Linked DNA regions of Homo sapiens: region 1 is linked to region 2. Evidence: fine-mapped expression QTL. A gene starts in region 2. The other region holds a variant in brackets. All regions are shown on one strand. Distances are from middle to middle.

The links. PIP is the estimated chance that this variant, and not a neighbour inherited with it, causes the effect. A credible set is the group of variants that fine-mapping cannot tell apart.
Region 1: its variant is the best candidate, but not a certain one, in a credible set for the expression of MAP7D3 in monocytes (TOPMed, PIP 0.76).

Annotation. Positions count from the first base shown.
Region 1 is chrX:136,214,732-136,220,109 of GRCh38, forward strand. It overlaps MAP7D3 (MAP7 domain containing 3), which reads right to left. Exons shown (of 19, transcript NM_024597.4): 17 at 4,862-4,940; 18 at 4,667-4,764; 19 at 2,083-3,762. The coding sequence ends at 4,699. Among named protein-coding and RNA genes, the nearest start is that of FHL1, 20 kb to the left of the region's middle. RefSeq lists a silencer at 1-73. The variant C/A (reference allele first, on the strand shown) is at 2,968.
Region 2 is chrX:136,248,861-136,254,238 of GRCh38, forward strand. MAP7D3 (MAP7 domain containing 3) reads right to left here and starts at 2,540. Exons shown (of 19, transcript NM_024597.4): 1 at 2,429-2,540. The coding sequence starts at 2,498. RefSeq lists a silencer at 2,257-2,646.

The DNA of each region.
Region 1 (5,378 bases), 34 kb before region 2:
TCCACATGCAGTGTCCACAATGACACAGGCGTAGAAAATGCGCTGATCTGCAGAATCTGCTGGTAGAGGCCAGGGGTCTGTCCCTCCGGGTAGAGGATACCAGGAAGGGAAATGCGAGGCAGCAATGCGTGAGGGGAAAGCTAGGTCAGTGTCCATCACCTTGGCCTTGTAAACAGGAACATCCTGGTAGACAGTTTCAATGGATGGATCAACAGGACCTGGCGCCAGACTTGGCAGTGAAGAGTTTCCAGCTCAGATGAGACACAAGGAGGAATGGGATTTCTGGAATTTGACAGGAATGGGATGTGTCTAGTTCGTGCTGATTTAAAAGTATATAGAATGCTCTAGCATGTTCAGTGGGGAATGGCTACCACCATTCTCATAAGCACCAGACCCCAAAGACTTGGGATAAACAAGGACCTTGCCTTATCAAAAACAAAACCTAGTAAAGCAGAGGTCCCCAACCCTTGGGCCACGGACTGGTGCTGGTCTGTGACCTGTTAGGAACTGGGTCACAGAGCAGGAGGTGAGTGGCAGGAGAGCAAATCTTCATCTGTATTTACTGTGGCTCCCCATCACTTGCATTGTTGCCTGAGCTCGGCCTCCTGTCAGAGCAGTGGTGGCATTAGATTCTCATAGAAGTGAGAACCCTATTGTGAACCACGCATGTGAGGGATCTAGGTTGTGTGCTTCTCATGAGAGTCTAATGTCTGACGGTCTGTCACTGTCTCCCATCACCCCCAGATGGGACCGTCTAGTTGCAGGAAAACAAGCTCAGGGCTCCCACTGATTCTACATTATGGTGAGTTGTATAATTACTTCATTATATATTACAATGTAATAATAGAAATGAAGTGCACAATAAATGTAATGCACTTGAGTCATCCTAAAACCACCACACCATCCCCACCAAAGGTTCATGGAAAATTTGTCTTCCACAAAACCAGTTCCTGGTGCCAAAAAGGTTGGGGACTGCTGGAGTAAAGCATGACTTAAGATTGGAAACTAAACACTCACAGGCAGATCAGAACATTTGTTTTGCCACTCACAGTAACAGTGATGTCATTAAGAGATGAGTATAAAAGAGCACAATTAACTGCCCAGACTTTTCAAAGCAAGAGGGTTTTCCTCATCCAAGGTGAGCACTGAATGTGAGAATTAAAGGGGCAAGGGGAGGAGGGAAAGGGGAGTGACTGCTTAAAGGACACAGATTTTCTTTTCAGGGTGATGAAAATGTTCCAGAACTAGACAGTGGGGATAGCTGCACAGCCTTGTGAATATACACTTTAAAATGGTTACTTTTAGGTTATATGATTTTTATTGGGATTAAAAAAAGCAAGATCAGCACCATAAACCAGGGCAAGAAAGAAAAAACAAAATATTTTTTTTAAAAAAATCAAAAGATACTGCAGTAATAAGCCTCAACTTATACAACAGAACCATCACAGGGAAGAGTAACAAGCACTGAAATAGTTGCAGGAAGACAACCAGAGCTTGAAAACTCACATCTAGGCTGGGTGTGGTGGCTCATGCCTGTAATCCCAGCACTTTTGGAGGCTGAGGCAGGAAGATCACTTGAGGCCAGGAGTGCAAGACCAGCCTAGGCAACATAGCAAGACCCTATCTCTAAAAAAAAAAAAAAAAAAAAAAGAAAAAAAGAGAAGAAGAAAGAAGAAGAAGAAGAAAGAAGAAAGAAGAAAGAAGACGAAGAGAAAAAAAAAAAAGCCAGGTATGGTGCCATGACTGTGGTCCCAGCTACTCAGGAGGCTAAGGTGGGAGGATTGCATGAACCTCAGAGTTTGAGGCTGCAGTGAGCTATGATCGTGCCACTGTACTCCAGCCTTGGCCACAGAGTGAGACCTTGTCTCTAAAACAAACAAACAAACAAAAAAACTCACATCTTTCTATTCCAGAAGTGGAACTCTGCCAAATCACCAACTGGATGAAGAGGGAAATCAGGGGATTTGATCCCTGTTCATTCAATTTGCTGGCTGCCTGTGTTCATAGCTCAGCCAACAATTGGTGTTGCCTTTATACCACCACCAGTACACTTTTTTTAGTATTATAATGAAAAAACCCTTGTTTTATCTCCAAAGTTTATTTTATATAGCACACATTTATATGGAACTGTAACAGTGTTTCAACACAAGACATTTGTGCAGAAAAATAACAGGAACTCTTTTGTTAGGATGATTGTCTCTGTTTTATACATGAAAGAGCTAGTATATAAAAATAGTTTTTAAACCAAAGGTAACCTTCTCTATTCTATATCAAAAGTACAATACTCTGAGTGGCAAAGAACCAGGGAATCTGAAAGAATTACCTCCTTTTACTAATCCAAGACTGGCAGCCAAAAGGAACACTGGCCTGCTTCAGACTATTTACGATTCAACACTGAAAACTCATTAGGAGAATTAATCTGCATTTGAATTTTATGGAATCATATACTGTGTGTGCATACATACGTGTATGTACATCTGTGTGCATTTCTGTGTGCCCATCACACGAACTCACTGGCAGCCAGTGGCTAGAGAAAGGCAAGCAAATTTTGGTTGTATCTCAAGCCTGAGTGTATACTCAACGACAGAACTGGAGAGTACAGGCAGAAAAGTACTTTAAACATTTAGAGGAATTAAACATACCCCACGGGACAACAGCCATATACTCCTTTATGTACACAATAAAAATAATATATGTTTCTGTAGATAAACACCAATATGTCCTTCAAAAGGAAACACTGACAAGAGCATGAAAGGTGCTGACTGTTCCAAGATGGGGCTTTACAGGACTCCCAGCATTTCAGGTTATTAGTGCCTGTGTACTCACTGGCACAGATGGGTAGAGTTAAAAATATACATATATCACAGTAAAATACAATTTGCTGGATTTTGCAACCTTTGGTATTTTTATATTAGAAACAATCTGACAGCTCTTGTGAGCGATCCTGCGGCCCTTGCATAATCTATT[C/A]TGTTCTCTACAAGATCAACTGTGAGTTTTTAGCTGTCAAAATTGTCACTGGTACACAGAAAAAGCATTACTTGGCTGGGTGCAGTGGCTCACACCTGTAATCCCAACACTTTGGGAGGCCAAGACGGGTGGATCTCTTGAGGCCAGGATTTCGAGACTAGCCTGGTGAACATGGTAAAACCCTATCTCTACTAAAATACAAAAAAATTAGCCAGGTGTGGTGGCACATGCCTGTAATCCCAGCTACTGGGGAGGCTGAGACAGGAGAATTGCTTGAGATGAGGAGGCGGAGGTTGCAGTGAGCCGAGATTGTGCCACTGCACTGCAGCCTGGGCGACAGGGCAAGACTCCGTCTCAAAAAAAAAAAAAAGAAAAAGAAAAAGAAAAAGCATTACTTTAAGATTTCAAATATATACTGAAAGAGAATTAGTTCTGCAATCAGATTCTTCTAGAAACTCCACAGTTACAGTTTCAGGAAAGCATCCTTGATGCACTCACTCCAGCAAACACATTGGTGGGACAACACAAGAATGAGAGACAATGATGATTTTCCAAAGAAAACAAAAACCACTCTTTACTTAGAACTCTTGCTTAGACACAAGAGAATAAGATGACTTTAACATCTGAGATATACATCAAAGTGGCCTTTTGACAGTTTCTTTCAATTTTTCGGTGTCACTTCCTTTACCAGGTTCAAGTCAGAAGCAGAAAAATTTGAGGACTGATGGGCCCAGGAGTTGAGTTATCCAGAGTGGAAGATGTATTCATCTCCCAGGCTGAGTAAGGTTTACATATCTGACCAGAGGGAAAAGTAAAAGAAAGATCAGTAGAGAAGATGCTAGTCTCACAGCAACTTGTCCCTGGCCTCCCTTCAGGGCACACGCCCAGGACTCTCAGCAGCCCCTCTGGAGTTGCTGACACACTGGTCCTATAAATGTCCTTCACTTCCCCAGTCCCCAACCAGGCCCAAGGTGCTTCTCAATTTCAAAGAGAACTTCTCAAGGAAAGAAAAACAAGAGGCTTCTGGTTTTGGAAACAGGTTGAGGCTTATTCCGAAGACCTCCCTAATCTTCTGCCCTAAGCAACTGTCTGTGTGCTTGCCAAGCAACCAGCAGACCAGGAGCTCAGAGGAGTCTGAGATGCAAGCTTGAAAAGATCATTTTTTTTTTTGAGACAGAGTCTTGTTCTGTCACCCAGGCTAGAGTGCAGTGGCAGGATCTCGGCTCACTGCAACCTCCGCCTCCTGGGTTCAAGTGATTCTCCTGCCTCAGCCTCCAAAGTAGCCGGGATTACAGGCATGCATTACCACACCCGGCTAATTTTTGTATTTTTAGTAGAGACAGGGTTTCACCATGTTGGCCAGGCTGGTCTCAAACTCCTGACCTCAAGTGATCTGCCCGCCTTGGCCTCCCAAAGTGCTGGGATTACAGGCGTAAGCCACTGCACCTGGCCAGAACTTATTTTTTATATCCGGCCTGAAATGTGGTACATAAAAATTAGAATCAAGTCATCTACTCTCTACTTTCTCAAAACCAACTTAATGGAAGACTCTCACATCATTCCTGCAGACCCACAACTGTCTTCTCCTTCTCTTCCAAAGCTATATGGTGCAAAGACTGCCCTGGAATGGCTAGAAGGAGGGGAGCGGGTTCAGGGTCAATTGCCTTTCAAGAAAAAGGTAGATGAGATGAGGACTTACCCAAATGAGGAGAAACAGGTTTGCTTCTTCTCTTATTGTCTAAAGGTGTCTGAGGACTTTGGCAAGATGTCATGGAATCCTTCAGATTTTGTTTGTGCCTGTCAGGAGAAAAATGTGACAAAGATAGTTCTGTGTGACTTAAACAATGTTGGTGATCTTGTCACAGATACGCTGCTGCTCATAATTCATACTAACAGAGGATCTGCTGGTGGTGTTGGTTTCATCCGCCTTTCTGGTTTTCGTTGTGTGACTGGTCATTCTTTTGGAAGATGGTCTGGAAAGAGACAGTTTGGTTAGAATCCCAATTATTCCCAAACCAAGGCTCTGGCCTAAAAGAAGCTTTGTCCTTTAATTAACTTCTAAGAAATGCCTTGGAATTAAAAAACATTTCAGAATCATAGAACAGGATGACTGAAAGGAACCCTAGAGATCACAGGACACACTGATTTTCAAACTGTATTCCAGAAAGCCCTAGGTCCCACGGAAGCACCAGGAGTAGGAGCAGCTAAGCACGCAGGACTCCAGAAACCATGCCCCTCCCTTACATTGGTCAAGGATGCGGCCAGTGAGGTGTAGTAACAGAATTGGTACAGGTCCTCTAGCTCTAATGCTCCTTCCACATCATCACACCTCTCAGCAGACTCCTGTTCCTGTGGGCCTTGCAGGTGAATGTCTTCTCAGGCAATTGCCCATGTAGCATTCCTTTCCATGA
Region 2 (5,378 bases):
AGCCAGAACTTGATTTAACTGTAAATTTCAAAGCAACTTTATTTTGAAATATTAAGAAAAAATAACAGGAAAAGAAATCTGCCATCAGAGAACCATAAAAATCAGGCAGATTCACAGAATTTTGCCTCAAATAGCAAAAGCCAAAGTCATAGGGCTGAGACTTTCAGAAGACCTCCAAGTTCAAACCAAAGATAGCATGTCTTGAAGACAAAACTGGAGACAATTTTCTACCATTTAGAGCTGTCTACAATGGAATGGCTACTTGGAAAAATATTAAGCTCCTCATGAGAGTGCCCATTCAAGTGGCAGAAGTGCCCCAGGATTTTACAGCTGGGACTCTGGATGCCTGACAAGATCATCTTAAGGTTTCTCCAACTCTAAAATTCTATGATAATCTAGCTGTCAATCTCCGTAGCTTTTTCTGCATTGGTAGAAATTATTCTTTGAAAAAGTTATTCTAAACTGAGAAACACTGGTGAATTTAGAAAAACAAGAAGGGAAAGGTGATACGTCAGTGGCAAGTTTCTTATGCTCATCTGGTTGAAATATTCAAATAAATTTTTATTTTAAAACAATTCTGCATAAAAATATAAACACGTGTTTTGTTAAATATTTGGTATGCTACAACCTCAGCACAGTGCTATGCACAGAAAACATCACTCAACAAATATATATTTACACTTTATATGTAACACATATATATATACATGTATCTATTGCATGCATACATAAATGTATAAAATAAATGTATTTTGACTGTGCTATGCATTTATATGTTATGTATTCAAGACAGTTTTAACTCTTGCTGCCAGACTGCCAGCAGAAGATGAAAACAACATTTTAGCAAAAACATCTGTCTCCTTGACCCCTTCAGGAAAACGCTGAGATCTAAAGGGCAGTTCTGGTCAAGTTGGTGCTCTGTGAAAAAAGTCTAACATGCGATATTTACAATTCCTAACATGAAGTGGGCAGCAAGGTTTTAAACCAGGGTCCTAGGTTAAGACTTTTACATGGCTCTTAAGTTTTTGGTTTGAAATGCTGTGAATTCCAGTATCTGTCCCATATATAATTTTAAAACACTTTCCAACATCTGATATACAAATGCTTTTAGGGGTTTATCCGGTTCACAGCTTCTTCACCATATTGGAGTAATGCTGGTTAATCTAAATCACTGAAATAAACCAGTGCCTGAGAGCCACAGGTACCAATAAGCAACACAATTTATTGGAGACTGTCTTTCTAGGTGAACCATAAGTATAGACACGGAAGGAAGATTCTTTTCTCCCTAATGAATGGTGAAAGTGTATGTAGTATATGCTTCTGACACAGTCTTTGGAGAGCTGATTCAAAGTCTTCTCAAGTAACATATAGCTTCCCAATCGTAAACAATCTAACTTTTTAATTGCAAATGCAAAAAAACCCCTAAGAAATTCAATTAAAATTAATAAAATCGTTTTATTCGCGCTCATAGCAGAGGGAACTAGTCTAACAGGCTAAAAGCAACCTCCTGAAAGGAAGAAATCCTATCTCAGGTAGTGGAGCAGTCTCCTGGACCAAGCAATGTGCTGTCAAATTGTATAAGATTAACGGTTTTCGAGGAGGGAAAAACGTTTTGGCGATGGGACTAGTTGAGGAAAAAGCACTCTGAAGTGCTGATTCCCGTTCAGTTCAGCCTAGAGACTGCAAGATGTCCCACAGAAGATGACATCTTGTTGAAGTCATGTGCTACAGCAGGCAAATCAGGAGATGCAAAGAGCCAAGTTTCATCCCAACTTTTAAAGCAACTTTTAAGCATCCCCACCCTCACCCAGCTTCCTCCCTGGACCTTGACCGGGAGGGTGCAGGAGGTAAGCCTTTGGGAGAGGCAAGGACTGCGACAGTAAAAGCGCCTAAACTCGCCCACGACCCGGGCTGGGGGATAACTCAAACTTTCCGTGCCTGGAAAGGCTGCCTGGCGGCGGAGGCGGCGCCGGCGCGCGGAGTCCCTGCGGGCGCCCGCACATCCCAGGCAGCTGTGCGTTCGTTGGGGCGGTTGCGCGGGCGGCCACCGCCCCCCAAGGGCAGATGGGGCACGGGGCGGTCCGCGGGGTCCGGCTTCCAGCCGCCCCCGCCCCGCCCGTCGAAGCAGAGCCCGTGAGTTGCCTCGCGCCGCGTCCGCGGGGCTCAGACCGTTGGCAGCGGCAGTTCGACCGTTGGCGGCGGGACTCAGGCGGCTCGCGGCGTCGGCTGACAATTTCAACCCCCCGCCCCCGCCCCTGTCCCATCCCAGGGCACTCCGGCGGGGGTGAGGGGAGGACCAGATAGCACGAGGCGACTCCAGGGAAAAGTTTTGTGGCGCCCGCTGCGCCGCTCCGACGGCCCGGGGACTGCGGGAACCCTGCCTCCCACGCGGGCCCGAACCACCCCCGGGAGCCACCCGCCCGCTCACCCATCCGTGCCCGCAGCTCTCTCAAGGATGGGCTGCCGCCAGCGCCAGCTGCGGCGCCGTCCGCCATCATCGGAGTCGGGACCGGAGGCGGTGGTGGCTCTCCGCATACATTGCGCAGGCGTCGGCGCGGCCTCCGCTTGGGTCGTGGCCGGGCTGCCGGTGGGCGGGGCGGGGCGGGGCGGGGCGGGGCGGGGCCCGAAGGGCCACCGCGCCCGCCTCGGACCTGCGAACCGGGCAGGATTGCCCCTTGCGTCCCACGTCCTGACCGGCTGGGCAGCGACTACCTGGTCTAAAGAAACCCTCTCCTATGTTCCGTGCTCTGCCCCTACTGCATTGTGAGGACTAGCCAATCAGCACCCAGCTTGGCCCCCCCAACATTCCTTTCTTCACCTTTACCTAGCAACACAGTAACATTCCTTCCTCATTCATTCATTCATTTAAAGAACATTTACGGCGTGCCTCCTGGGTGCGCTTGTATCATGAGTTTACTAGTCCTTGAAACATTACACAAAGAAAGACCCAAGTTGGGGGAAGAAGCCTAGGGAGAGGTTGGGAGTCGCAGGCTTGCTTTGAGGTGCTAGGGGCCCCATCATGAGTAGGCTTCCCTAAACTGTTGCACAATAAATCATGACACATAGGTCTCAAAGTTGGGTGAAATATCTTTAAGATGTTTGTGAGTCTTCAAAGAGAGGCAGAGGACTTATTGGCATCAATCTCTCCGGATTTTGGGAGAGACTCTACCAGGTTGCAGAATGTTTTTCCCATTCACAAGGAAAACCGTCATTGGCCTGAGGCTCCTTTAAGGGGCAGACCTCACTTCATGGGGGCTTGCCCTTATGAGGTGGAGTCACCACTGTTGTGAGTGTGTGTGTAGTGACATAGTTGTAGGCACGCAGTTTATGGTTGGGGCCATTAAGTGTGGTGCAGGAGATCCCAAAATGGGGCTGGACCACTTGTGAGATGGGCACTTTGGCGAGACCACTGAGTCTCCAAATGACATGGGAGCTGTAAAATGGAAGAAGCTAATAATAGCATATATTACATATGTTAGCAATGATAGCATAAGTTACATATATTAATATATAATATATATAATATGTAATATGGGGCAGGCACGGTGGCTCATGCCTGTAATCCTAGCATTTTGGGAGGCTGAGGTGGGTGGATCATTTGAGGTCAGGAGTTCGAGACTAGCCTGGCCAACATGGTGAAACTCCGACTCTACTAAAAATACAAAAATTAGCCGGGCATGGTGGTGGGTGCCTGTAATCCCAGCTACTTGGGAGGCTGAGGCAGGAGAATCGCTTGAACCCGGGAGGTGGAGTTTGCAGTGAGCCATGATAGCACCACTGCACTCCAGCCTGGGTGACAGAGCGAGACTCTGTCTCAAAAAAAAAAAAAAAAAAAAAAAGAAAAGAAAAGAAAAAGAAAAAAAAGACATTACGTTGCACCTACAATTTTAACAAAAATTAAAACGTGGTCAATAAGTGTTTGCGATGATGTAGATTAATACAAGTGGGGGGCCAGGCACGGTGGTTCACACCTGTAATCCCAGCCCCAGCACTTTGGGAGGCCCAGGCAGGTGGATAACCTGAAGTCAGGAGTTCAAGATCAGCCTGGCCAGCATGGGGAAACCCCGTCTCTAGTAAAAATACAAAAATTAGCTGGGCGTCGTGGCGGGCCCCTGTAATCCCAGCTGCTCGGGAGGCTGAGGCAGGAGAATCGCTTGAACCCGGGAGGTGGAGGTTGCAGTGAGCCGAGAGCTGCCACTGCACTCCAGCCTGGGCAACAGAGCGAGACTCTGTCTCGAAGAAAAAAAAAACTAGTGGCAAAAATAAACAGTTTGGCATTATAACTCCCGAAGCTCTGCTTCTAAGTAAATACAGAGACCAATGCTTTGCATGATATCCAGGATGGTAGCCATTCATGATTATTAATACGACACACATATGATTAGGGTGCCCACAAAACACACACACATACACAAACACAAGTTCAGCTTTCATGACCTTATCTGGAACTCCGCAAACAGAAAATTTAGCAAAACACATCAGCTTTGTAGTTTCTTGCAAAAATGTTGAACCCAAATCTAATAATGAAGAAACATTCAGACAGAGATAGAGACTGTGATATAGTCCACAAAATAACTGGCCCCAATGCTTCAAAATATTAGTGTCATGAAAGACTAACAACAAAAATCAGAGAAGTGTTCCAGATCACAGGAGGCTAAAGAGACCACATGCAATGTATGATCCTTGATTACAACCCTAATTTTTAAAAGAAGCTTGAAAGGGCATACGTTACTGGCATAATTAGAAAATTTGAATATGAACTGTATGGTACATGATATTGTATCAAGGTCAAATTTCTTGGGTGTGGGAATGATGTTGTAGTCACCTAGGAAAATGCACTTCTTCTTAAGAAATAAATAGTCACGCCTGTAATCCCAGCACTTTGGGAGGCTGAGGCCGGCACATTGCTTGAGCTCAGGAGTTCCAGACCAGCCTGGCCCAACATGGCGAAACACCATCTCTAGAAAAAAATAAAAACACAAGACAAAAACCCAAAAATTACCTGGGTGTAGTGGCACATGCCTGTAATTCCAGCTACTCGGGAGGCTAAGGCAAGAGAATCGCTTGAACCCAGGAGGCGGAGGTTGCAGTGAGCTGAGATTGCCTGCTGCACTCCAGCCTGGGAGACAGAATGAGACTTTGTCTCACGAACACAAAAAAAGACATAAATATTGAAGAATGTAGGGGTAAAGATTTGAGGTTTTTCCAAATAAGAAGTTAGATAATTTTTTCTTTATTTTTTGAGATGGAGTCTCACTCTATCACCCAGGCTGGAGTGCAGTGGTACAGTCCTGGCTCACTGCAACCTCCGCCTCCTGGGTTCAAGCGATTCTCCTGCCTCAGCCTCCCAAGTAGCAGGAATTACAGACCTGCACCCC